2 separate regions of the Homo sapiens genome follow, and region 2 is linked to region 1. The links come from fine-mapping of genetic effects on gene expression. A gene starts in region 1. The other region holds a variant in brackets. All regions are shown on one strand. Distances are from middle to middle. Region 1 holds the start of PTPRB (protein tyrosine phosphatase receptor type B). Region 2 overlaps PTPRR (protein tyrosine phosphatase receptor type R).

The links.
Region 2: its variant is fine-mapped to the expression of PTPRB in blood mononuclear cells (TOPMed, PIP above 0.99).

What each region holds. Positions count from the first base shown.
Region 1 is chr12:70,635,649-70,638,574 of GRCh38, reverse strand. PTPRB (protein tyrosine phosphatase receptor type B) reads left to right here and starts at 1,146. Exons shown (of 34, transcript NM_001109754.4): 1 at 1,146-1,234; 2 at 2,509-2,904. The coding sequence starts at 1,180. PTPRR (protein tyrosine phosphatase receptor type R) reads left to right here. Exons shown (of 14, transcript NM_002849.4): 14 at 1-496.
Region 2 is chr12:70,663,478-70,666,403 of GRCh38, reverse strand. All of the region lies in intron 10 of PTPRR (protein tyrosine phosphatase receptor type R), which reads left to right. Among named protein-coding and RNA genes, the nearest start is that of PTPRB, 28 kb to the right of the region's middle. The variant C/A (reference allele first, on the strand shown) is at 1,806.

The DNA.
Region 1 (2,926 bases):
TGTGTATTTATAGTCCCTCCTATCAAACAATTACAGAGCACAATGATTGTCATTGGGTATATATGTATTTACTCTCTATTATTGGGCATAAAGGTGGCTTCTGCTCCAGAACTCTATCCACTGTATTTCCACATCGTGAGTCATTTTACTTTAAAAGGGAAAAACAAATTTGTAGCAACTCTGAAGTATCAAGAGTTTTAACTACTTGTCTCTCTTTTGCTAAGAAGGGATTTTTGAATATGCTATCTACCTGGAATCTCTCTCTCAACAAAAGGTATATGCCTTCAGGAATGATATAATCTGTCCCATTTTCGAGGCTCCTTATAAGGACATTTCCATGTATGTCCTTACATTTCTGAAAGCTTTCAATCTTCAAGAGACAAAAAAAATTAAAATAACTACCCTCAGCAAACACTAGCTGTTCTGCTCATATATGAATTTTTAATGCAGCAATGTTGACTTTGTTTCATACTGCCAATAAACTCTTAATACTAAATACTGAGTAAAGCATATTCTTTTTTTTTTTTCTATTTGGAAAGACGCCATCCTCTGTTTGGGGAAGACCAAAGTAGATAATGTGATGGGTTTAATTTTAGTGTCTGCATCTCCCCAGTGAAGATGACGATCTCAAAATGTAATATTGTCATCACTTGGGAGATAATGATCTAGAAGTGCCATCATTATGTGGTTTTCCTCAATAGACTCGCAGCATATCATTATACAAACAGTACATGTTTATGTCTTTATATCACTTGTCATAGACCCTCATCAATTACATGGCTTATGTTTATTCAGCAGAATCACATCACCTGAAGAGATGTAATGTTTCAGGAACATTCAATTATCTGAGATTTCAATTCCTTTCTTTCTTCTTGAGGTTAAGAAGCAGTCACATGCCAAAGGAAAGGTAGGTGAGGTCTTAACGAGATTTACTCTGCTCTTGAAGGCTGGAATATTTTCTACATTAAAAAAAAGAGGTAATCATAATCCCTTCTTTCTAAGGAAACAGACAAAAGGACACTGGTGTAAAACTTCCCCAAACAATTCAATAGGAGGAAGTGCTCGTCACTGACTTTTCCCCCCACCATGAAGGCACATTTCCTTCCTAGTCTTTGCTTCTCTTATCTGGGAGAATTTTTTTTTTCCCCAAGCGAAGCATGAACAGTTGCTAAGTGGAAAATGGAGGCTGAATTTTACATGGTGATTCTTACCTGCTTGATCTTCAGGAACTCAGGTGAGTGGGTCTGCCTCAGTGTCCTGAGGCATTTCTTCAAGATCTAGCCAAGGAGTCCCTGGTCTTTGAAGTGTCTGAAATAAGGTAGAAGGGGCCAGGTCTCCATGGCAGTTTAGCCAAAGACGATGAAAAGCAGGAATAAAAGGAGCCAGCTATGCCCATACTGTTGAGATTTCTCTCCAAAAGAAAATAAATGCTCTCCTCTCATCCTCCAAATGCTTCAGGCAGCCCCTGAAATGATACATTTAGAGCAGAGCGTAAAGAACCCCGAGGAAAAGTTTGTATTATTATATAACAGTCTGTGGCTTTCCCCAAGCCTTTTTCCGACCCGGTTATAGTTTTATTTTCTTTTGTGTTGAAGAAAGAAAATTGAAGGAATATGATTAAAGGGGGTGAGGAAATGTAGTGTGTTTTATTTGGAAGTTGTCATTTGGGAGGGCTGAACATTTTCATGAGCGAGCTGGGCAATTTAAGTAAAACCTCATTGAAAATGGTTTCTGAGCCAGAGTATCTTGCTCTTTAATACTGATGTTTAGCAATTTGATGTTTAATTTTCTTACACTGGCACATGATGATTTTTAGAAAATCTATTCGTATTTGAGAGAAAACTGTAGATATTGTCATAAAATAGAGAAATGCTCCTCTCCACGACTAAAGGAAATTTAGTTTGTGATAATCAATACTTTCATTGGCTGCAATTAGCTAGGAGGTTGTGCTTGGAGAAGTGGGAAAATTTGTTTTATTTTTTGATAAATGTATGCAATTTTAAAAAATTGTTATTCAAACTATGAAATTTGTATATAAATACTGCAATGTGAATTTAAAGACTGGAAAAGGGGGTGCTTTTTTAAGGTAAGGGAGGAAGCTTATATCGAATATGTCAAATGGTTAAAAAGGGAGCTGAGCATTTCATAACTTCAGCATATCTAACTAATTGGGCTAAAATATACTATATACTTTGGATGGTTTTGTTTCTTTCCAAGCTTCCTTTCATTTTCCAATAAGAGGTGTGCTTTTTTCCCCTAAAGCATGTGAAAATTAAAAAAAAAAAAAAGATGGGGAGTTAAGTGTAACATATTGACATTTTATATCGTCAGCTTTGGAATTTTAAATCACATGTGTTAAATATGAGAATGTTCACTTGAAATGATAGAAATAACAAAATATAAGTAAAACTAGTGATTTTATTTAGCTCATTTGTGGGTGGGTTCTTCCGTTTTCTAATGGGCCTCATAATTTGCTACATAGTGCTTTATGAGCTTTTCATCTTCCAGAAGGGTTTCAGATTGTCCATGTCCAGAAACAACAGTGTCTTTTCAAAAATGAGAAAGTGGTCGTGGGCTCATGCAACAGGACCATCCAGAACCAGCAGTGGATGTGGACTGAGGATGAAAAGCTCCTTCATGTTAAATCTGCACTGTGCTTGGCCATCTCCAACTCTTCCCGCGGCCCCTCCCGCTCAGCCATCTTGGACCGCTGTTCCCAGGCACCCCGATGGACCTGCTATGATCAGGAAGGCTTCCTTGAGGTGGAAAATGCCTCTCTCTTTCTCCAGAAACAAGGCTCCAGAGTAGTGGTCAAGAAGGCCAGGAAATACCTCCATAGCTGGATGAAAATAGATGTCAACAAGGAGGGAAAACTGGTCAATGAAAGCCTCTGTTTACAAAAAGGTGAGCTATTCCTTTCAGAGCA
Region 2 (2,926 bases), 28 kb before region 1:
AAAAGATGGTAACAGAAGTACTGAGCTCAGTAGGAGAGTGAACCAAGACTATGCAAGGTTGCATGTGCCTCAACATATTTGACAGAGGGAACAGGTCATTGGTCAATGCTGTGGTTAAGTAGCATTGGTTAAGAGTCAGTGTGGAAATCAAAGATGGAAAGTTTCATTCATAAAGTGATATTTTCTTGGAAAATTCTAGCCCCCCAAGGCAATTTTCCCCTACCAAAACACCTGAGCCTTCATGTCCTCATCTGAAAAATAATTTAAATAATAATAATACCTGCTACCCACCCTACCTACTTCAAAGGATTGTGGAAGGGGCTAAATGATATGATGTTGGTGAAGGTACTTAAATCTCTGAGCCTATGTCAGTAATATTCCATCGGAGCACCAGGAATAAAAGTAGCTATAGTAATAATAATTTTAGACAACCTGACCCATTCTATCCCTCTCATGTATTAATATAACCCAAATGAAGCTAAGTATGAAGATTTTATTTACTTAGAGCCACATTCTATGTGATGATACAGATCTTTAGCTTATAGAGCAATATCTCTGATATTTAAATATATAGAAACTAAAAAGAAAATAACTTAAAAATAGGTTTTTTTTTTTCAGGCAACTAAACAACTAGCTAGACCGCCTCCTCACATAGCCCTAACTTGGTGGGGGCCAGAAGGAGAATCAAGGGAAGAAAAAAGATCACAAAAATATGAGCTGGCGGCCGGGCGCAGTGGCTCACGCCTATAATCCCAGGACTTTGGGAGGCCAAGGTGGGCAGATCACCTGAGGTCAGGAGTTCAAGACCAGTCTGGCCAACATGGTGAAACCCCGTCTCTACTAAAAATACAAAAATTAGCTGGGCGTGATGGTGCACACCTGTAATCTCAGCTACTTGGGAGGCTGAGGCGGGAGAATCGCTTGAACCCGGGAGGTGGAGGTTGCAGTAAGCTGACATTGTGCCACTGCACTCCAACCTGAGTGATAGAATGAGACTCCATCACAAAAAAAAAAAAAAAAAAAAAAAAAAAAAAAAAAAGAATTTGCATTGCTTTGTGTTACATCCTACTTTTGCTGTAAACCACCAGTTACAAAGCACTGGTTAATGTCCAGAATCTTTTCAGTCAGAGTTTGATAATAACTTGTTTGCACAAGAGACACTGTCCTCTGGAAACCTATTTTTTTCTTCCAAATTATGGATTCTTAGAATTAATAGATAATTTTACTGAAAGGATAAGCCTAGCTAGCAAAAGAATAGTGATGATTTGGGGTTATATTCTGCTAAATAGCATGCTATTTTGAATCACCTACAATTAGTGTGGTTTCACAGTATTATCTGTAAGGCAGCATTTTTCTTCCCTGCCTTTTCTGCCTCTTTTATCTCATTGTTAGCACCACAATAAAGAAACCCTAAAAAGCTGTACAGGAAAATAATTTGAACATGAACTTGTACTCTTAGAAACAACTGCATTTGCAGCTGTCCCCCACCTCATATTCAAAAGTACCCACACTTATCTGGTCTCTTTTTCTGTCATCTAAATGAGGGAAAAATGTATTCAGTGTGTAAAAATAAGCTATTGTATCTCAGAAAGGAGATGGGATGCTAATTAAGGGTTGTTTGAATGAACAAGTCACATTGCATTGTCTACTGGGAGCTGACTGCCAATTGCTTTTTTGGTAACGAGTCAAAAAAAACATTCAAGAGGGCCCCCGGCAAGCTTGGGAGAGAAGCGAGCAGCATTTCCATTTATCAAGTAGGTGCAGAAGCCTGTGCAAGTATTAAGAGTCAGGGTGCAGGCGGCAAG[C/A]TCCTGCTTTGCAGCTTTTCTTACTGGTTTTGAGAGCCACCTTCCTAAAGAGGGCCCTGCTGCTCAGGTCTGATCGTGGACAATGGGGCACGTACGCCAGACTGCTGGACTACTGAATGAATGCCTCTTTCTTTGTTCAATACCTTTTCCAAGATTCTTTGTCATTCTTCTTGGACTCATCGGGAGGCATGGGTTTTAAGATACACAGTAGCTCGGGTCTTACAGCGAAATAATTGATGCTTCATTGAAAGAAACCAGGCAAATTGGTTTGTATGATTACCTTTAACAAAGTGGGAAAATTTTAGACATTTGGCAACTCATAGATTTCGAGAGAAATGAGTTGCTCTACTTTAAAAAGGTTTCTTCTCTTAATGTTAACATTAAGTCAGCCAGAGTAAGTCTTTTGGTCTGATAGCCTGAGAGTCTCAGGTGGCATGTAAATAAAGCTGAAACAATTTACTTCATTTAGAAAAAGGGTCAAAATGTAGAGGATGTAAATGTGTTTTTATTGTAATGGATGAAAGAAACTGATTCTGCTAGGTGAAGTGACTTCCTTCGCTGTGCTAGCTTGTAGAGTAGTGGTACTTAGCATAATAGAGCCCTGGAGGTGTGTTTCTGATACTTTGTGTCACTTTTCCTTCAGTTCTATAATTTTGTGAGTCTTTTGCTGCTCTTTTAAATCTATAAGTATTTAAATTTTTATCAAGTGTATTCATATGCCTTTGACAAAGATGTGAAGAAACAAGTGTCCTGGGTATTAAAAGGTTCTGATTGAAGGCAACAAATGAAAGAATTTCTATGTAAATGTATGTATGGTTGGGAGAAAATAAGTGCTATTTAAACATTTCTAAAATTAACATTGCTTCCAAGAGCACTCAAAATAAAACATAAACATTTGTCATTTTACATTCTTTATCATCAAAATTTGTGGTAAAAAATAGTTATTTTACAGTTGTTTAAAAAGCAAAATGAGATTATATGTATGCTTGAATCTCATTTTGCAATTTTTATTTAATAATGATAACTGACTATAATAATACCAAAATAATATTTAATGCATGAAGATCTAATCACTTTGGGCCAAAAACCTATCACCCAGTAGTTTTAAAATAACAACAGCA